Homo sapiens: one gene and its partners. The protein of the gene in region 1 interacts with the protein of each later gene in a pairwise test. Each region holds a gene or a part of one and is shown in the gene's direction. Other genes may lie near its edges.

Region 1 (8,142 bases):
GATATTTTAAATATTTTATATATTTCTAATATTTTATTTCAAATGTATTTTCTAACAATATTCGACATCTCTGGTGCATTTATTTGGTGCTTAAAGATGCGCGTCTCAATCACTCCTTTGTCTTTAGCCACCAACTAGAAACTGACAACTCGCAAATCTGGATTTTCAACCCACCCCCTGGGCTTCAGTCCCACACATGCTACAGCCTGCTGGTCTTGGCTGTCTGTTAAGTGCCTCAATATTCAACATGGCTAAGATTAAACTTATCTTCATCCTCATATCCCTTTCTGTTTCCATAAAAGCCATTTCTTCCTTTAGGTTCCATATCTCAAAAGCCTGGGTTTTCTTCCCTCTTGTCACACCTTGCAGCTTAAGTAATCACCATATCAAGATTCTTCCTCTGAAGTTCCTAAATACCTCTCTATCTCCATGCCCACCGCCAACACTTTACTCCAGGCTACCATCACTCCTCACCACGATTATTACAATCTTTTCTTATTTCTGTTCTAGCCACCTTCCCTGCCCAAGCCATTTCATGTCAAACTAGACTTTTTTTTTTTTTAAGACTAAGGAACAAAGAAACATGTCACTTAAGACATTTGCTAAGCACCCACTATGTATCAGGTAATGGCATGAGGTCACAAAGATGGGTTAAACACTGTTTAGCTTCATTTCTTACTCCTACCCAATGTCAACTCTATCCTTCAGCTACTTTCAGTCTTCAGAAGGTAATTTTTTCCCTTGCCTCCAGGCTTTCATACTGTTGCCTCTGCCTACAATACTAAACCCTTTGCCTAATTGCTTCCTATTTATCTATCAGTCTGGTCTCAGTTTAGACATAATTTCTCCAGATGGTGTTACCAATCTCTCTACTCTGGGTTAGGTATCACCTCTATTTTTTTTTCTTTTTTCTCCAACTGTTAGCTAAATATCCATGTGGTGTTTTAATAATTCCTAACCATAGAACTTTTAAAAATAAGTTTTATTGAAATATAGTTCACATTGCCATAAAACTCATCCTTTTAAAACATATAAAAAACATATGCCAGTGGTTTTTAATATATTCATGAGGTTTTTCTGAACATCGTCAATAATTCCAGAGCATTTATTTCCATCAATACAAAAAAAAACAAAACCCAAAACAAAAAACCAACCCTGGAAATGACCAATCTACTGTCTATATTTAGAATTTTGCCTACTCTGAACATTTTATGTAAATAGAATCGCGTAATTAATGTGCCTTTTGTGTCTGGCCACTTTCACTTAGCATAATTTTTCAAGTTTATCTATATTGTAGCATCTATCTGTACTTCATTCCTTTTAAGGGTCAAATAACCTTTCATTGTATGGATATAGCACACTTTGTTTATCCATGCATCAAATGACGGATATTGGGGCTGTTTCTGCCGTCTATTATGAATAATGCTGCTATGAATATGCACGTGCAAGTGCTTGTATGCACACACGTTATCATTTCTCTTGAGTATATACCTAAGTGTAGAACTGCTGGTTCATATGATAATTCTATGTTTAACATTTTTTTGAAGAGCTGCCAAACTTTTTCAACATGGCCGCACCATGATACAATCCCATGAATAGTGCATGAGAGTTCTGATTTGTCCACATTCTCACCAGCATTTATCATTTTTTAAATTTTAGTTTTTCTAGTGGGTGTGAAGTTGTATCTCATTGCAGTTTTGATTTGTATTTCCCTGAGGGCTAATGATGAGCATCTTTTCATGTGCATTTGTATATCTTCTTGGAAGAAATGTCTATTCAAATTCACTGCCCATTTAAAAAACTGAATTATCTGAGGCCAGACATGGTGGCTTACGCCTGTAATTCCAGCACTTTGAAAGGCTGAGGCGGGTGGATCACTTGAGGTCAGGAGTTCGAGACCAACCTGGCCAACGTGGTGAAGCCCTGTTTCTACTAAAAATACAAAAATCAGCCAGGCATGGTTGTGGGCACCTGTAATCCCAACTACGTGGGAGGATGAGGTACAAGAATCGCTTGAACCCAGGAGGTGGAGGTTTCAGTGAGCTGAGATTGTGCCATTGTACTCTAGCCTGGGCAACAGAGCAAGACTCCAACTCAAAACAAAAAAACAAAACACACACACACACACACACACACACAAAACAAACCCAAAAACTGAGTTGTCTTTTCATTGTTGAATTGTAAGAGTTCTTTATATACTCTGGATACTAATCAGTTATCAGATATGTTATTTGCACATTCCCTTCCATGTTGTGGACTGTTACTTCACTTTCTTGATAGTGTCCTTTGATACACACAAAAAAATTTGTTTTGAGATATGGTCTCACTGTTTCCCAGGCTGGAGTGCAGTGGCACAATCTCTGCTCACTGCAACCCCCACCTCCTGGGCTAAAGCAATACTCCCACCTCAGCCTCCTGAGTAGCTGGGATTAGAAGCACCCACCACCATGCCCTGCTAATTTTTTTGCATTTTTTTTTGTAGAGATGGAGTCTCATTTCATTACCCAGGATGGTCTTGAACTCCTGGCCTCAAAGGTAATCCTCTTGCCTCGGCCTCCCAAAATGCCGGGATTACACAGTTGTGAGCCACCAAGCCCAGCACTAAATTTTTTTTTAATGAATGAATGGATTAGGTAACCAAAATATCAAGTTTCTTTTTTCTGTCTAAAATTGTATCAACTCTGTGCAGTAACATTGTTTTCATCATGTTGTTGGCAGTTAAAAATTCCTTGACTAACAATTCAGAAGCAAACGAATGCACAAGATGATAGGGATTGTGTGATTTAACAGGTTTTGGAGCAACACTGATCTGGATTCAAATCCTAACTTTAAGAACTGTATCCTTGGGCAAATTACATTACTATTTTTCTTTCTTTAAAATGCGTTTTTTTGTTTGTTTTTTAAGTGCCAGGGGTTTATTTCCCTCACATGTGGGATGGCTCACATACACAACACACAAAGGCGTTGGCACCGTGGGAGAGGGCAGCACCCCTGGCTTCTGCTTGGCCTCACAGTGTAAGAAGGGAGAGGATGGGTTCTCTCTCCTCCCCTCACTAGGGCCTAGGGGACCCAGGAGCAAATTCCATCCCTTTCACCTCTCAGCCAAGGAGAAGCCACATTGGTGACATTTAGTTCCAACAATTACAGTAAGTGGAGAAGGGATTGGTCTGGTCCCGACCATTACACGGTGAAGGTATACATAGTAAAGGAAGATACAGTTTGGATGAGGCCACAATAGGGTGCAGATGACACCATCAGAAGCATGTGCAGGGGAGGGGCAGTCACTCAGCTTCTGGGCTGCTTAGTTCCTGGGTTGGCAGGAAGGGTAGGGAAGACGGATGGGGCTCATTGTTTGGCATTGATGATGTCTACGAATTCGGGCTTGAGGGAAACACCACTCATGAGGAAGGCAGCCACGTCAGGCTGGCTGGCCAGCTCCTTGCAGGTTGCCTTGGTCACAGAGCCTCCATAAATGATACCAGTGCTCTGAGCCACTGCATCAGAGATGTTGGACTTAAGCCATCCTCGGAGCTTCTTGTGTACCTCCTGGGCCTGTTGGGGTGTTGCAGTCTTGCCAGTACCAGTGGCCCACACGGGATCATAGGCCAAGATGACCTTGCTCCAGTCCTTCACATTATCTGCGATGACCTTTGTCTGCTCAAAAACAACCTTCTCAGTGATGCCAGCTTCCCTTTCATCTAGCTTCTCCCCAATGCAGGCGATTACTCCGAGTCTCTCTGCCAGAGCATGGGCCACTTTTCTGCCCAATCAGCTCATCTGACTCCCCAAAGACACGCCTTCTGAGTGCCCCAGGACCACACCACCCACGTGACTCCTAAGTCTTTGACCATGCCAGGGCTGATCTCCCCAGTAAAGGCCCCATTAGTCACTTTGTAGCAGTTCTGCGGAGCCACAGCAATCTTGGGAGCTAGCTTCTGCCGGGCCAACTCGTTATACGCAGTGGCGAGAGCACAAATCACCTTGGTGTCGGCAGGCACAGTGGCCGCGTTCTGAGTGCCGATGAGCTCCCCCAGACATTTCTTCCGCCCGTTCATCTTCCAGTTCCTCCCCACGAAGAACTTCCTGGAGGGCGCCATGGCGCTGGAGCTGAGGCGCTGTAGGTCAGTGTCAGCGCCTAAAACGGGTTTTATTAATACTTGGCAAGGTTGTTAGGCGGATTAAATGAGATCTTGTAACTACAGTGTTTTACACATTGTGATCATTTATCAAATAGCAGTTATTTACTAGTGCAAAGGACTAGCAGCAATGTTAATATCAATATACTGTTACCTTTTGTCCCTAATTTCTCCATAGTACAGTTTCCAATATTTCTGTTTTCTTTTGTGAATTGTTAGACCACTGGTATTGGATTCGGACAGAAAGGCATTCACAAAAATACAGTTCAATGTGAGAATAACCCTAAAGATGTATGCAAAATGCTCTGGAGTTAGAGCACCAGGAGCTGTAAGCAGAATGAAGACCTCTTTTGGGCTTAAGAACTAAGTAAAGGGGAGCTGAACAAAGATTCTAGGCATTTTGGATTTATCTCAATGTGGCACATATTTCAGGTTTGTAAAATAGTTCAGTTGACTACGTGTCTGTCTCCTCCACTAGAGCCAGCGTAGGTACCATGTCTTAAGTCATCTTTGGATCTCCAGTACTGTGGCCACTCTAGGGAGAGTTGAATTGACGCGCCTTGATCACCAGGGCAGAAAAGGATTCTCTGGAGAGGGATGGGGCAGTCGGAAGGGGTAGGAAAAACCTGGATCCGTTTCCAAGGAGCTGAAGGCAGCTCAGATATGGGGCACATCTCGGCGCTAATGTCCCAAGCTGCTAGCGAGGAACAGAGAGAACACCGGCTCTTCTTCCCGGCTCCTGGCCCGGCAGGGTTACTTCCGGGAGGGGGCGGGGAGACAAGAGGAGGCGTGCCGGGAAGGAGGCCGTTTGTAGTGTACCAGGCGGAAGTGTGCCAAAGGTATCGGTGCTGTCGCTTCCGGTCCGGGTAAACGAACCTTAGGTACACTGGTGTGTGGCCTCCCAAGATAGGCTTCTGAGGGCAAGTCAGCGACTGAAGACGGGAGCGCCAGAATCTGTGGACTCAAGAGTCTAGAATCAAGTGGAAAAACCGGAAAAAAGGCCAGGAACCTGAATACGACCTAATAGCTGTTTCCGAGGGGGCAACTTCCACGGAGAGCCTTCTGCCCTGGTAACGGCCAAAGAGGAGGAGATGGCGCCAGTCAGGGAGCGGCCGTGGCCCAGACAGTGAGGAAGCGCGAAGGCGGAGCAACCGAGGAATCCTCCGGAGAAGAATCAGAGCCGTCGCTACCGCCACTACCGCCACCACCATGGAAGGAGCAAAGCCGACATTGCAGCTCGTGTACCAGGCAGTGCAGGCGCTTTACCACGACCCAGATCCCAGCGGAAAGGAGCGCGCCTCTTTTTGGCTTGGGGAGCTGCAGCGTTCGGTGAGGGGCCCAGAGAGGCAGTTCTGTGCCGCACGGCCGGGGCGGGGTGGAACCTAGGCTCCGGGGGAGAACCTGAGCCCGGCAGTTGACCTCGTGAGGTCCTCCTTGGGGAGGAGCTGCTGTCGTGGGGTGGGGCTGCGAAGCTACATCTTTGCCGCTTTTGGGAAACTAGTCGCACCTGATCGGTCGCGAACTGGCCCTTTCCCCACCCGGCAGAATCTGATTTGTAGGTCTTATACTCTTCGATTGTGGCATCAATCTAATCTTGTTTAAGTTCTCCCTTTGCCGTTGCTTCTTGGGCCGTGCTTTTCCGTTTTGTCTTCCTCCCACCAAATCCAACCCCAGTGTTTCTCCACCTTCCGCTTAAGAAGGCTTTATTCGTCTCCCCTCCGTGTCCAAGACTTGCATCTGGCATTTTGCTCCCAGTCGTAGCCTTATGCCTCACTCTTTTTGCCTATTTTCACTCCAGTTTGAGTCTGTTCTTCTCGAAACTTCTCAGGTTTCTAGATTCTTACTCATGCGAGTTTTCCCCTTGCTTTGGAGTGGCAACATAATATGAAGAAAAAACAGTAATTCTGCTTTCAGAAAATCTTTGGAGTTCTCATTTTGTTTCATATTAATCCTCTAACCTTGTTATTTCTCTGGCTTTTAGATTTTTATTTATAAGATGGGTATCACTGCTGCTTTGATTATTCCATATAAAACTGTGTGTGCATCCGGTGAGATATTTAATTGTAGCTTATATCTGTTGTATTTCTGCATTCTTTGATTCATGTTTTATGCTTCCTGCCCTAATTTTCACACCTTTGCTGTGCTTCATTTCTGTGTAAATGTGTATTCTTGGTTATCTGGCTGACTTAGGTTCTAATGTAGGATGTACTTTAAAAATTAAGTACTTTGAAAACTAAAGAGGCTTTTTTTACAGGCTGACAAAATACTCACCTTTACCTTTATTTTTGCATTTTATACTCACAACCATATTTTTTTTGGCCCCCTTCCCTTTATTTTAACTCATAACTGATACTTAAAGGTGCTCTGCCTTATTAAATCAGCTCCTAGGCTGCAAGTGCATAATATTTAAAAATTTGCAACTTTGACTTTTTAAAAATCTGGTCTTGGTATGGAGCAACTTTGCCTTTTTTTTTTTTTTTTTTTTGAGACAGAGTCTCGCTTTGTCGCCCAGGCTGGAGTGCAGTGGTCCCATCTCAGCTCACTGCAACCTCCTCCTCCCGGGTTCAAGAGATTCTCCTGCCTCAGCCTCCCGAGTAGCTGGGATTACAGGTGCCTGCCCTGACACCCGACTAATTTTTTTTTTTTTTTCTTGAGACAGAGTCTGGCTCTGTTGCCCAGGCTGGAGGAGTGCAGTGGTGCTATCTCGGCACACTGCAACCTCCTCCTCCCAGGTTCAAGTGATTCTCCTGTCTCAGCCTCCTGAGTAGCTGGGATTACAGGCACACGCCACCACACCCAGCTAATTTTTGTATTTTTTAGTAGAAACGGGGTTTCGCCATGTTGGCCAGGCTGGTCTCTAACTCCGACCTCAGGTGATCCGCCCGCCTCGGCCTCCCAAAGTGCTGGGATTATAGATGTGAGCCATCGCCCCCCGCTGCAACTTTGACTTTGAATATTAAACCTAAAAAACTGGCACCCAAGTCCTCTTCAGAAAATAAAGGAATACGACTCACTGTAGGCTACACAAGAAAATCATTCACATATGGTCTCATTTAGTGTTTCTGTGATCTCTGGAGAGTCAACAATTCCCTGATCTTTGTATAGTTTTCTAAAGTGTAATTAGGAGAAGTGCTACACTATACTAAAAAAGTAATCTCTTTCTAATTAAACCTGCTTGTTGTGTGTATTTTAAATCAATATTTGAGTGCTTACCATGTGCCAGCAACTATGCTGGGTGTTTGGATTTGGAAATGAACCAGACAAAAATCTCTGCTTACCACAGAAGGTAGTTGTGATTAAATGAGTTAATATTCTACGAAGAGGTTAGAAAAGTTCTTGGAACATAGAGATTAAAATGTTAGCAATTGTTATTTAAGTATTAGTCACTTTTCTCTCCTTACTTTCCAATACTCTATTACAACCTTACATCATCTTCACCATCACAGTTAATAGTCAGAGTCCAGACAGGAACAGATGGCACACTTGACAGGATAATCTGAGTTTATTTTATAAAGATACTATTATAAAGATTTAGGTATAGTGGTGTGACAAGAAATAGTTTGGTAACCTATAGCTGAACGGTTAACATCCCATAAAAGAGGGAATAGTTACTTGAAAAGTATGGAGTTGGCTGCCTTGAGAGGAATGGTGACTTTCAGCCGAAGGGACATAGCTAGTTTCAGGTGACCTTGAGAGAATGAAGCTGGAGGAATGAATATCCTGACCCTGTTCTCTTAATTTCTTGCTGGGATTCCCCATTGGCCAAACCCAACCGGAAGCCAGGGGCACAGTGACCTGTTGGTAAAGTCTATACAGGTCAGCCTATTGGAGCAGAAAACATGATAGAGGAGGGTGGAAAAGTGGATCTGGAAAATATCCAGCAGTAACACATCACGTTTAGGCAACTTCAGCATCTGGATTGACAGTTCAGCTAACACTTTGGCCTTCTGATTCCTTTACCTCTTCATTCTCTTTAGCCACCTGGTCACACAATCACACCCTGGAT
Region 2 (6,417 bases), on another chromosome or scaffold:
ATGGTTTTGGTTTTGGGGAGGTTCTTCAGAAACAGCAGAGAGCAGATGTACCTGCAAGCTACTTACAAAGCAATCTTTTGATAAATGCAAAGGATTGATTGACCAATAACCCTTCTTCAAACAAATTCTAGAGATAATCCAAATTCTCGGCTGGGTGAGGCATAGTGGCTCATACCTGTAATCCCAGCACTTTGGGAAGCCAAGGCAGGCTGGTCACTTGAGGTCAGGAGTTCAAGACCAGCCTGGCCAACATTGTGAAACCCCGTCTCTACTAAAAATACAAAAATTAGCTGGGCATCAGGGTGGGTGCCTGTAATCCCAGCTATTCGGCAGGCTGAGACATAAGAATTGCTTGAACCAGCCAGGTGCGGTGGCTCATACCTGTAATCCTAGCATTTTGGGAGGCTGAGGCGGGCGGATCACCTGAGGTCAGGAGTTCGAGACAGCCTGACCAATATGATGAAACCCCGTCTCTACTAAAAATACAAAAATTAGCCAGGCGTGGTGGCATGCGCCTGTAATCCCAGCTACTCGGGAGGCTGAGACAGGAGAATCGCTTGAACTGGGGAGGTGGAGGTTGCAGTGACCGAGATCGCATCATTGCACTCCAGCCTGTGCAACAAGAGCAAAACTCCATCTCCAAAAAAAAAAAAAAAAAAGAATTGCTTTTGAACCCAGGAGGCGGAGGTTTCAGTGAGCCGATATTGCACCACACTGCAGCCTGGGCAACAGAGGGAGGGAGACTCTGTCTCAAAAAAAAAAAAAGAATTCCAATTCTCAAATCAAATAGGGGATAGTATGTTTTCTAAAAGGGAATCAATTTTGGACCCTTCTAGTGCATTTTAAAATTTAGTTTGACTTGCAATTTACTTCCTATGTGATATTTTAGAAAAACTGCTTTAGGGCTGGCACAGTGACTCGCCTGTCATCCCAGCACTTTGGGAGGCTCCGTCTCCAAAAAAAAAGAAAAAAAAGAAAAGAAAAACTGCTTTAATGTAAAAGAGGGTAGACTGATGTTCATGCTGAGAGGAGAATATGGTGTCCAAGGTCAAGGAGCTGGCATCTAATGAAGGTTTTCTTGCTGTATCATCCCATGACAGAATGGAATAGCAAGAGAGTGCAAGAGTGAGAGAGAGCAAGAGGGGGCTGATGTTGATTTTATAACAAACCCACTCCTGAGATAAGACATTAATCTGTTCATGAGGGTGAAGCCCTCATGACCTAAACACCTCCCATTAGGCCTCACCTCCCAACATTGTTGCATCGAGGATTAAATTTCCAACATACGAACTTTGGGGGACACATTCAGATCACAGCAGAAGGTAACATGAGATGGATGTGTTGTTGATCAGGCATTTACCATATGCTGGGCACATATGTTTTCTGATTTAGTCTTCATGCCAGCCTTGAGAAGTACTTACTCCTGTTCTCGTGGTTGTTAGTGATGAGCAACCTAAGGCTTGGAGAGGTTCAGTGATGTGCCTGATAGCATACAGTGATGCCACTGGAATTTTAACTTGAGTCTCTCTGACCCCTGAGTGCAGATACTTTCTCCTTTACATTGAATTTCCTATTAAGGATATATGGGTTTGGTGAAGAATGGACGGAAGGATAGCTGCCATGACTCTAAAGGGGCATTTAAATCTGGTGTGGAGGCAGGAAGCAAGGGAGAACTTGAGGTTCCCAACCCCCAAGCCCTTAAAAAAAGCCCGTGATCTGTTTTGCAGACTAAAGATAATCAGTTAGGGCCTGGCGTGGTGGCTCACACCTGTAATCCCAGCATTTTGGGAGGTCAAGGTGGGTGGATCATCTGAGGTCAGGAGATGGAGACCAGCCTGGCCAACGTGGTGAAACCCCGTCTCTACTAAAAATACAAAATTTAGCTGGGTGTGATGGCGCATGCCTGTAGTCCCAGCTACCAGGGAGGCTGAGGCGAGAGGATGGCTTGAACTCGGGAGGTGGAGGTTGCAGTGAGCGGAGATCGAGCCACTGCACTCCAGCCTGGGTAACAGAGCAAGACCCTGTCTCAAAAAAAGATAATTAGCCGGGTGTAGTGGTGCACACCTGTAGTCCTAGCTACTGAGAATCTGAGGCAAGAGGATTGCTTGAGCCTGGGAGTTTGAGGCCGCAGTGAGCTATGATCATGCCATTGCACTCCAGCCTGGGTGACAGAAAGACCCTGTCTCAAAACAAACAACAAAACCAACAAAAAGATAATTGGAACCAATTAATAGAATTAAAAAAGTATTCTGATAAGGGAAGGTCACCTCAGGGTCTGTTAGACTTCCACAACAAAAGTCTTCCATTTGGATAGGAAAGGACAGGGCGAGGGTTGGATCCCTACCACGGAGTGATTATATGGCCATGTAATTTTACTTTGGCAAGTGATGATAACTGGTGGCTGAATGATGGGGCTTCTGGGCAGCCAGTCTCCACATCTGTGTGTGTCTCTGATGTGTGTGATATGCGTCATACAGTGCAGTACCACAGAGCTGGAAAAACCATGGGACCCTGTTAGATTTTAACAAGCGTATATGCAGTACAAGAGAGAACACAGCCAAACTGAGTTGAAACTGCTAAGCAGATGGTTTGTTCTCTAGCTAACTTGATTCGTTCCCACATATTAGCCTTGCAGTATGAGAGGTTCTAATTCATTTTTCAGCAAAATTATTTATTACTAGATGTCATGCACTTTTGGGTGATTTGCAGATACCTTTGGTAATCACATGGTCATCACTGCTGGGCTTTTATCCTCTGAATAAACGTGAAGCATCCCTGGGTAATGGCCTGGTTTAGTTTGCTGCTCATTAAATGCCAAGACTTGCTTCCTGGTGTCCTTCTAACATTTTATTTGGGGTTTGCTCTGGGAATGGAAATTTATTGTATTGTTGATTTTCCTGTCTAAAATGAGATAGTTGAGGGCCAGGCATGGTGGGTCACGCCTGTAAGCCCAGCACTTTGGGAGGCGGAGGCTGGAGGATCACTTGAGTCCAGGAGTTTGAGACCAGCCTGGGCAACATAGTGAGACCCTATCTCTACAAATAATTTTTTAAAATTAGCCAGGTATGGCTGGGCGCGGTGGCTTACGCCCGTAGTCCCGGCCCTTTGGGAGGCCAAGGCAGGCAGATCACCTGCGGTCACCTGAGACCAGCCTGGCCAACATGGCGAAACCCTGTTTCTACTAAAAATACAAAAATTGGCCAGGCATGATGGCCGCCACCTGTAATCCCAGCTACTTGGGAGGCTGAGGCAGGAGAATCACTTGAACCCAGGAGGTGGAGGTTGCAGTAAGTCAGGATCACGCCACTGCACTCCAGCCTGGGTGACAGAGGGAGACTCTGTCTCAAAATAAATAAATAAATAAATAAAATTAGCCAAGTCTGGTAGTGTGTGTCTACAGTCCTACCTACTCGGGAGTCTGAGGCAGGAGGATCACTTGAGCCCAGGAGTTTGATTTTTTTTTAAATGAGATAGCTGGATTTAATTTTAATGTTCTGTGGTTTTATTATCAGTCAGTGCCAATAGGGAGACAACTGATATAAAATTGGAGAAGTACATTTAGTCCTGTCACTGCTCCCTTCCAGTGTGGAGAATGAATTGGGTTATAACAGAATCAGTGAGCCCAACCGCTCATGTTTTACATAGCAGGGTGGATGAGGGGAAATTAAATGGATTATATGTCCTTAGATGGTTTGGGGGTTATTCTCATTCTCTGTCCTGTTGAATAGGCTTCCGAAGATCTTCTCAAGGAACACTACGTTGACCTGAAGGACCGTCCATTCTTTGCCGGCCTGGTGAAATACATGCACTCAGGGCCGGTAGTTGCCATGGTGAGTGTGCCTGTGTGGGATACTCCAAGTATGCATTGCTTGTCATCTGTGCTAGGCTCTCTTCTAGACACTGGGGATACAGCCATGAATGAGACCAAATAGATACCTGTTTTCATATACCAGCTAATGGTTAGTGATAGGCTTCAGAAATGAAATATGCCCAGAAATGAATAGGAGTAGCAAATGATCACTTTAGATTGGGTGATCAAAGAACGCAATTTTTAAGCTGTGATCTGAATGACAAGAAGCAGCGATCTGAATGACAAGAAGCAGCCAGCCATGTACAGAATCACAGTGAAAAACATTTCCAGCCAAGCAAACAGCATGTGCAAAGGTCCCAGGGTGGGAATGAGCTTGGCTTTTTGAAGTACGGGAGGAGAGTTGAAATGCCCGAAGCCTGATGGGTGGGAGGGAAGTTGGGAGGTGAAGAGTTCAGAGGCATGGGCAGGGGCCTTCTCTCTTAGGGGTGTGTTGACCATATACTTCCTGAGTGCTGGGAAGCTATGGGACACTTCACACTTGGCATTTCTTTTTTTTTTTTTTTTTGAGACGGAGTCTTGCTCTGTTGCCCAGGCTGGAGTGCAGTGGTGCCATCTCGTCTCACCGCAAGCTCCACCTCCCGGGTTCACGCCATTCTCCTGCCTTAGCCTCCTGAGTAGCTGGGACTACAGGCGCCCGCCACCACGCCCAGCTAATCTTTTCGTATTTTTAGTAGAGACAGGGTTTCACCATGTTAGCCAGGATGGTCTCGATCTCCTGACCTCGTGATCCACTCCCCTCAGCCTCCCAAAGGGCTGGGATTACAGGCGTGAGCCACTGCGCCCTGCCCACACTTGGCATTTTAAGGAGGCTGCTCTGGTTGCTGTATGGAGAATACATTGTAGAAAGGCAAGCATGAGGGCAGGGAGATCAGGATCCTCAGTGCTGGAATAAGTGGATATACTCTATAAACATTTGTTCAGTGAATGAATATAATCTTAAGGGGCCTTTTTATTTTTCCTTTTTTGAATTAATAGTTGCCAGATTTTCTGCTGTGATTGGTTTTCTTCTTTGACCATATCTTCTTCTGTCCTTGGAGGTCTGGGAGGGGCTGAATGTGGTGAAGACGGGCCGAGTCATGCTCGGGGAGACCAACCCTGCAGACTCCAAGCCTGGGACCATCCGTGGAGACTTCTGCATACAAGTTGGCAGGTGAGATTTTGGTATTTTTCCCCCTTTTCCAAAATCTGATTTAGTTGCCACAAGGATTTGGGTTTCCGAGGCTGGAGGTAGACATGATACCATATGCAGGTTGATTTTATCGGAGTTTATTGTTTTCCTCCCTCTTAAGTTGGCGTTTGGCTTTGGTTGTTAACATCACTTAGTCGTACCTCTGTTACACGAAGTGTAGAACCTGGTACAACACACTTTGCTGGCCAGTCTTTCCTGAAGGCTCTCACTGTTTGCACCAGCGTGGCCGGGAGGGCTGGATGTGGGGAGGGCATTTTTCAGCCTTAAGTGAATGGCCATTGTAGGCTTTTTCTTTTAACATGGTCTAATGTCCATGGAGCTTCAGCTTTTATGCTGCTGTGGCTGTAGATTTCTGGCAATGGGCGCATTTTAATCCTTCTGGTCTTGGTCATGTGACTATCTCTTTCTCCACCCAGGAACATTATACATGGCAGTGATTCTGTGGAGAGTGCAGAGAAGGAGATCGGCTTGTGGTTTCACCCTGAGGAACTGGTAGATTACACGAGCTGTGCTCAGAACTGGATCTATGAATGACAGGAGGGCAGACCACATTGCTTTTCACATCCATTTCCCCTCCTTCCCATGGGCAGAGGACCAGGCTGTAGGAAATCTAGTTATTTACAGGAACTTCATCATAATTTGGAGGGAAGCTCTTGGAGCTGTGAGTTCTCCCTGTACAGTGTTACCATCCCCGACCATCTGATTAAAATGCTTCCTCCCAGCATAGGATTCATTGAGTTGGTTACTTCATATTGTTGCATTGCTTTTTTTTCCTTCTTTTCATGTACACTGAATAACCTGACCTAATAGAGAGTGTAAATACTATAAAAATGATTTATTTTGAGGTCTCACATACACACAGGCATTCTTTGCCTGCCCTTCTTAACCCCCGCATCCCTTCCACTCTTGGCACTGAGCTATTCAACAGGCATCTATGGAGCATGTGCTACGTGGCCAAGACTGGACTAGGTGCAGAGGATTCATCAGAAATGAAAGAAAACATGAGGGCTGGGTGTGCTGGCTTGTGCTTGTGATACCAGCTACTTGGGAGGCTGAGATGGGAGACCAGCCTGGGTAACATAGCAAGACCCTGTCTCACTAAAAAAAAAAAAAGAAAAATTAGGCTGGGTACGATGGCTCATGCCTTTAATCCCAGCTATTCAGGAGGCTGAGGAGGAGAATCGCTAGAGGCCAGAAGTTCAAGTCCAGGGTGGGCAACATAGCAAGACGCTGTCTTTACAAAAAAAAAAAAAAAAAATTAGCTCTGGTGCTGTGCACCTCTAGTCCTAGCTATTGGGAAGGCATAGGCAGGAGGATTGTGCCCAGGAGTCCAAGGCTGCAGTGAACCATGATCATG
Region 3 (7,746 bases), on another chromosome or scaffold:
TTTAGTAGAGACGGGGTTTCACCGTTTTAGCCGGGATGGTCTCGATCTCCTGACCTCGTGATCCGCCCGCCTCGGCCTCCCAAAGTGCTGGGATTACAGGCGTGAGCCACCGTGCCCGGCCAAGGAGAAGTTTTAAAGAACACAGTAGGCACTAAATAAATGTGGAATGAATGAATCATTGATGTTTGCCTTTAAGCCTGATAGAGATTGCAAGTATTTTATACTTAAGTGCTGTGGGAATTCAGATTTTAATATGAGATTGCAATATAGTGAGCTTAGTCTGGTAAGGCTTCTTATAGCTGTAGATCTGAAAAAATATCATATTTAAAATTGCATGGTTGAACTTATAGGACATTCTGAAAGAGTTAAAATATGGCTAATAATTTCCATGGGGGAAATTTAATTTAAATGAGCACTTGGAAAGAGTGGTTCATTTCACTTATATTACTGGGATTCGACCACATTTTATAGATAGGCCTCTTTGCCTCAATTAGGTATCAATGGTTCAGTAATAATTTAATATTAATATGAAGGTTTTGGAGTTCTCCAACAGGTTACATTGAATATAATTGAGATAATTCTATGAAAGCCCAATAATATTGTCACTCTCCCATGCATCTGTTTTCTTTGATGGAGGAAATGAATGAAGTTACAACTAGAATTGAAGGAGGACATACAAGGGAGTGCATCTGAAATGTGACTGCCAGCATTTGGGTTTTAAATAGAAGAGACAGAAAATCATTGCATTAGGGCTAGAAATCTTTTCAATGGACTCATATCTAGATGATATTGTATTTTTTCTGCTTTTGTTCATTATTGTATTTCCAGCATTTAATGTAGTCATGTGTAATACATATTTGCTTTTATTTTTGATGGCATTTAGTTAGCCAACCAATTGTTAAACAAAGTCACGTCTCATATATCTGCATAACTTTCAAGATTCATGAATTCAAGATATTTAAAACAAAGCCTGGAATAGAAAATACATTAAAAAGTTTAAAAATTTGCTTTTCCCTCTCCACCCCTCTCCTCTCTTCCCCTTTCTTTCCCTTCTCTTCCCTCAAAGAAAGCACTTGTTAATATCAGGTAACAATTAAAAAACAAGTATTGACAGTTATCAGATAAAGAAAAATAACTCTAAAAACAGTCATAAGAACTATGTATCTATGGTATTTGGAGGCAGTTACTATAGCAAGAAATACTAACAGCAAGGTGTAGGGCTTGAAAGGGTGAGCCATAGTCTTTTGGAAAATTCAGTTTATTGGAACACCTTACGTTTCTTGATAGTATTAGATAAAGCCTAATTGGACTTATTTAGTAACTACTAGATGACGAGCATCTTGCTTGTTATGTTTATGTTTAAGATAGGATGGGATTTGCAGTCTAGGAGAAGAGGCAAAAGAAACACATAGGAAATTATTATAGAATAACATAAAACTATATATAATTAAATACCAGGAGAGGGAACAAATTGAGTGATTCTTCTTGTGTGGAGAATCTGAAGGTCTCTTTCTAAGGAGGTGGAATTAGAGAATGAATATAATTTGGGTTAAAAAAGGGAGCGGGGAGGCAGGATGGCTTCCAGGGAGGTAGGGGAGGCCACAGAAAGACTGGTGGTAAGGTGAACTGCGGCAGCCTGTAGGAGGGTCTTGAGGAATCATGCAAAGTAGGGCAAGATAGATATTATAGTGTAAAATCAGGAAGGCCTAATGGCCTATTTTCCTAATGTTTTTCCATCTTTACTCCAGTATCACTTACTTTGAAGAGAGACTATAGTTGTTGCTTGTTCTAGAGGCCTTTTTAATCTTTAATGATTGAACCCATTACTTTTAAAGAGCAACGGAGAGGATTCCTTTTTCAGTCAGTTTGGTGGTACAACATCCAACTTTAGGCTCTCCTTTCTATATTGATATCTAATTTGCAATGATTGAGTATCTTGATTAATAGTATCCTAGTCATGCTACTTGCTTCTCTTTCATTCATATACCACGTCATCTTAAGATCTTTTACCATGGAATTGATGTGGTCAGAACCTCTAACCACTGCGGAGATTCTGTTGACTGCCACTGACTTCTCTACTGGCCTTATATTATAGTGGCCATCATGATGCTGTTGTGATTAAAAGCCCAAGCCCTATGCAAAATTGCCCGGGTTTGAAACTGGGCTTTGCCATATATTAGCTGGATGACCCCGGACAAATTATCTAAACTCTCTGACTCCCGATTACCTAATTTTAAATTGAGGATAGCAATAATATCTACCTCAAACAGTTGTCGGAATAAATTAATGCAGATAAAGCACTTAGAATAATTCCTGGCACATGGTATCATATAAGGGTTAATTATTACTCTTGTCTCTAATAGGGATAAAAAAATGTGCACTTAATATTTAGGAAAATTATACCCCCCATGCAAACTCTATATTAACATTTTTTAGATTATTTTACATTTAAGTTGCATTTTAAGTAGTTCTTCAAGTAAGAATTTAGCTTTAAAAGGACTTCAAATACCTTTTAACACAATCTCTCCTCTAGTGCCATAGCAAAAGGCCTGGTGTGGAGTAGACTATAGTATCTACTCAACAAATATTTGCTATGTGAATAAATAAAGTTGCAAAATACTAAACATTCAAAAGACATGTAGGTAGTTATTATGATAAATAGAGTTATGCTTCATTCTTTAAGAATACAGAGAGGTGAGTTTAAACCCAATGTGGAGAACAGTAAATCTACAAAGGCTTCCTAGAAGCAATGATACTTAACTGAATCTTAATGGACACACAGGAGTTGGCCTCATAAAAAACAAGAAGCTTAAAGGGTCTAGATAGCCCATTTACAATATTGTCTCTGATCAACCTATTCAAAATAGGGCAATTAGTTAATGAGAACCATTTTATTGGTATTTATACCAAACACATATATGAAATTTCACTTTATCACCTATTATTCTAAGTGGAATCAAATTATTCCAAGTAGATAGATATTCTTAGTGATTCTGGTTGAAAATGTGTATGTTGAAGCCTTTTGAAAAATCTGGCTGAAAGAAAAATAATAGCTATCTTTTATTGAGTGATTCCGTGCTGGCCTTGTAATGAGCTCTTTTCAGGAATTGAGTAATCTAAACCTCACAAGAAGAAAGTTCTCCTACTGCCCAAACTGATAAACTTGGTAAGTAGCAGAGCTAGAGCTTGAACTCAAGGTTGCCAAGTGCATGTTCTTAATTATTACATTATGTGAAGTTTTGTATTAACTCCTCACTAAAAATACTGTCTTGTCTTGCTTTCCTTTTATATAATTTGAAGATATATTCAAAGAAATAACTTCATTAATGATATCAATTTAGATTTTATTTCTGGAGACTTTTGTAAACTGTTACATAAAATGTAATTTATAAATTTCCCTTCGACACTACACGGATAAACTCATCACAAGATTTCTTGCTAGTCAGCACTGTTCTCCACTAAAAGTGCTTTCACATCCACATCTTTGCTTTTTCCCCTAGTGAATATAGAAAACTACTTCAATAATGCATATTCCTTTCTATATTCCTTCAACAGAATGTTGCCTATTTAAATCATTAAGATGGATTCCTAGTACAGAATCAAAATTTAAAAAATAAAAACTTCAATTGTAAATACCTGGAATCATAGTCGATGTCTAAATATATTAAGTACATCCAAAAACATATTTACAAATCTAGTATTCATCACATAATGCCTCTCAAGAAAGCAGAGATCTCAAGCAGTTTCATTTTCACACTTCCTTCATAAAAGTATTCGAATGCATGAAGGCCATCTGGCTATGTTACTACCTCCCCTTTAACATTAACTAATGTGGCAATCAGGCTAGTGTCCCACTGTTCCCTGACCACTAGCCAATATCAACCCTCTGAACATTACCCACTTCATGCTTTTTTCAAGTCCTTATCTTTACATACATTTCTACTGTTGACAACAAGCCATAATGTTGACTACCATTAGGTTTCTACTAATGTTTTCCAGTCATATTCTTCCAAGTCAGAGAATGTAACTGGCTCCACCAGGAAATAAAATAGAGGTCATTGAAGCAGCAGTGACTTCCAAGCTGTTTGCTAAATTTAGCAGCACAATACTTTCCACTCTAATGAAAACTGTGAACTGCAATTTTAGAATGTTGGAACAGGATGGGACTTTAAAGGTCATTGAGTCCAATCCCCTCATTTTTCTGATGGAAGTGTGGAGGCCTAGACGTAGCCAGTAATTTTCTGGAGGCCACAGAGCTTGTTAATTATGAAGATGGAACTCGAACTAAGATCTGCTCAGCCCTGCAGTAATGCTGCCCTCACTACACCACAGATGCTCTGCCTCCTAGGATGAGTTTAAACTAACCAGATCTTATAGCATAAACATAGCTGATATTATTGGTTGTGGCTTACCCTCCATGGCCATTCAACTGTTTCGTGGCTGAATGTGAAATAGCAAAGGTATCTGACTTATAAGTTGCTGAGAGAAATGATTCCATACCTAAACCCTGCCCCCAACTCTAAAAACTTCCTGCTTGATGTTCATCAATAATGAATGGCCCATCCCTGCAATACTCAGAGGGAGCTTACATTGCACTTTTGAGCAGCCGGTTAGTAATGTACAGTGGATAGAGCCTTTCTTTCAAATCCCAGGGCAGTGGGTCCTTCAAGGCTAGCATTGCATTTTCAATTAGCTGCTGAGTGAATGCTTGGCATGTGTATTAGTGAAGAGGCACACAATTAGCGTATTGTTCCTTTCTGTATTGTGCTGAGAGGATCCAAGGGATTGGTGGGGGAACAGGCAAGCCAGGCATCACCGTGGATGTTGAAGAAGGGGGTTACTCAAACCTCGGCATCTTCACTTGCTCGATCTGGAATTACAGCTATTTATTACGAAGCACTCTGTGTGGCTTAGTGGAGTGTGTCTGAGGAAACACATCCCGGACACCACTTAGGGTTAGTCTTTCTGAGCTCTTCACATCTCTGACTAATTATCATCATTACCATGGAGCCCAACAGTCCCAAAAAGATACAGTTTGCCGTGCCTGTATTCCAGAGTCAGATTGCACCTGAAGCAGCAGAGCAGGTATGTGAAATTGCATGGAGAACCATTCCTGTACATAAGGTAATATGAACATGCATTCTGGTTATTAATTGAAAGGTTCTTTACCTTTTGATTTTGCTAACTCTGACTTTCAAGATAATGTAAACAAGAAATAAGTTGGTTTTTACACATACTTGTATTTAAATTGCATTGGGAGAACTATTGTCTAAAATGTAACACTTCATTTGATACAAAATTAGCACCTCTGAGGGGAAAATGGCTCTGTAAGCAATTCAGATATGGATTCATAAATCTGTTCATTTTTGCTCATTAAAATAACAGTTTCAACATTTAGAGCAACTTTTAAAAATTATCAAAATGAGCAACATTTTATTTCATTTTTTATAAAATAAAATGATTGATTTAGCAATAAAATCATTAAATCCTGCAATAGTTTGAGACTATAGGCCTAATACTTTATTTTCATATGTTTTATTATTGTGGACACAAAACAATGATTATAAGTTTATATAATATATTACAGCTAGGATTTGTAGCTTTTTGTACAGTTTTAAAATCGTTTTGTTCAGACATTACAAACAGTGTTTTAACATTTCCTAGATTCTTTGTCCATGTCTAATATTGGTTTACATCTGTATCACCTTTCATATTCAGATTTACTTAGATTCTTGATGCAATGGCATCTCTTAGAACTGCAACTGTGAGGAGGCAAAAGCAAAGAAATTTATGAGGACATCAACCTAATCCATTCATTTCTTAAAACTTAAATTATTCTTGAATCCTTTTCCAAGTATTTGATATAAAGTCTTAAAAATAATTATTTAATCCGTGACTCATAGTGTTTCAGGATGTTTTGAAATCTGAGGTAGATGCACCTAGACTCAGGCCAGATAAATGTATCCTTGAACATGTGTCTATCCATGCTGAATGGGATGTTGCTTCTATCTTGGACAGGATGTCATTGATAAATTTTATTATCTATCCTACTGACACTTACTTTGGGTATTTACCCATAAATGAATATAATAAACAAATAAAGGATATTATATTCAAGGGATTCTGACAATACTATGCTCCTGTAACTCTTAAAATGAAAAAAAAAAACTTTAGAGTTTGTAATAAGTTGCATATTCTCATAAGATCCATATTTATTCTTCATTTGTTTATTTGTTCTAAATATTATACTAGAAAATAAAAAAGTTAACAAAATTAATTGAAATTCAAAGCTTATGCTGTTGATTTAACTCTGGTACCTGCTAGAAATAGGTTTCCAAGCTCTTCCTTATCCTGTTTAAAAATAAGGGTAATGAATCTTGAAAGCACCACCAATGTTATGAGGCTCCAAGCAAGCCACTAACATTATCAGGTCAACCCTGTACCTTCATTGTAAATTAATTTTCTGTTGTATCATTCAGTTGTATATAATTATTTCTTTTCCGTGGAAATGTAGCTTTTTGGTCAAAGAGGGTGATACTTCTATCAGACAGTTCAATTCTGTGGCTTTCTATTATTTCAAAATAAAATTAGTGAGCACCTTCCATGTGTCCTCCAGAAATTTGCTTTTGCATGTGGGGAAAAGATGAGGGTGAGACAGCTTTGCAAGCTGCAGAGTAACCTGGAGCAGTGTCTAATACTCACTGATATTAGCTGGGCTTTTGTCGTTCACAGATCAGGAAAAGAAGACCTACACCAGCATCACTTGTGATTCTCAATGAGCATAACCCCCCAGGTAAAGAAGCATGATGTGTTTCACACTGATGGAACAGAATGGAATTGTTTAAAGAACATCAAAGTACATGTCGTACTGAAAAGTTTCAATTTAGGATTTCACAGTTAGCAATACTCTAGAAAGCTAATCTATAAAATGGATCGTAAACAGAATCAGAAATAAATATTACAGGAATAATCTCAAGCCACAGCCTGTATTTCCTCTAGAATATCATAAGTGATGATATGCTATGAAATATTTTGCTAGCACTGGCTGTCATATGTTCAGGTGTTTGTATGGAACCTGGATTACTGCTTATTAATGAGGCTGGTGGAAAGCTGTTTAATTAGGTTTAAAAGCTCAAATTACAGCCCTAGAGATGCTTATATCTTTACAGAGTAAGTTTTTTATATGGAAAAGGTTGACATGGGGTGGGCAATGACCCAGCGTTGGCTTCAGCTTTGCTGATGACGTCATCTCTGAATAATGCAATTGACAAGTAACCAGATCAATTTTCAGCACTGCCTATTTGAGAGCCATTCTGAATGGCTGAATCCATTTGTTGAGGTTTTATTTTCCATTTCCTGTAAAAATGAAAACCGCATTATTATTCCGGATAAAAGACTATGATCTGTAATCCACAAACATTATTTACTTATTGAAGCGGGGTGATTTTTAGTCTCACATTTAAGTGCTGCTTCTGGATATACAAGTAGGATAGGAAAGGTCATGACATTAATTTGCAACCAGGCAGAACTTGGTGTTGGATTTTTTTGCAGGTATAAACAATAATGGGTGGACAAAAGGAGTTTAAACAGTGGAAACATAATATGTCTAATAATAGACTGTAGCGAGTGATCTAAGAATACCAGGGTGAAATAGTCCTTGACTTTTTCAGACTCTTTTCTAATTAGAGAAACATATAAAAAGAACGTAAACTAATAGGCTATTCATCATTTAGCCCAAATCCAAGA

The links. Proteins that work in one complex are often made in the same cells at the same time.
Region 2: the proteins of TNPO3 (region 1) and NME1 interact in binary tests that used the Homo sapiens proteins (3 or more experiments, as listed by UniProt).
Region 3: the proteins of TNPO3 (region 1) and PPP1R1C interact in binary tests that used the Homo sapiens proteins (3 or more experiments, as listed by UniProt).

Annotation. Positions count from the first base shown.
Region 1 is NC_000007.14:129,051,974-129,060,115, reverse strand, and holds the start of TNPO3 (transportin-3), read left to right. Parts: upstream 1-5,004; 5' UTR 5,005-5,345; coding exon 5,346-5,465; intron 5,466-8,142. UniProt on the Homo sapiens protein: Importin, which transports target proteins into the nucleus. Specifically mediates the nuclear import of splicing factor serine/arginine (SR) proteins, such as RBM4, SFRS1 and SFRS2, by recognizing phosphorylated SR domains.
Region 2 is NC_000017.11:51,156,252-51,162,668, forward strand, and holds the end of NME1 (nucleoside diphosphate kinase A), read left to right. Parts: intron 1-3,728; coding exon 3,729-3,830; intron 3,831-4,908; coding exon 4,909-5,021; intron 5,022-5,476; coding exon 5,477-5,594; 3' UTR 5,595-5,917; downstream 5,918-6,417. Other genes in the region: NME1-NME2 protein, read left to right, coding at 3,729-3,830, 4,909-5,021. UniProt on the Homo sapiens protein: Major role in the synthesis of nucleoside triphosphates other than ATP. The ATP gamma phosphate is transferred to the NDP beta phosphate via a ping-pong mechanism, using a phosphorylated active-site intermediate.
Region 3 is NC_000002.12:181,981,107-181,988,852, forward strand, and holds the start of PPP1R1C (protein phosphatase 1 regulatory subunit 1C), read left to right. Parts: upstream 1-4,746; 5' UTR 4,747-5,004; coding exon 5,005-5,085; intron 5,086-6,711; coding exon of another isoform or gene 6,712-6,732; coding exon 6,733-6,793; intron 6,794-7,746. UniProt on the Homo sapiens protein: May increase cell susceptibility to TNF-induced apoptosis.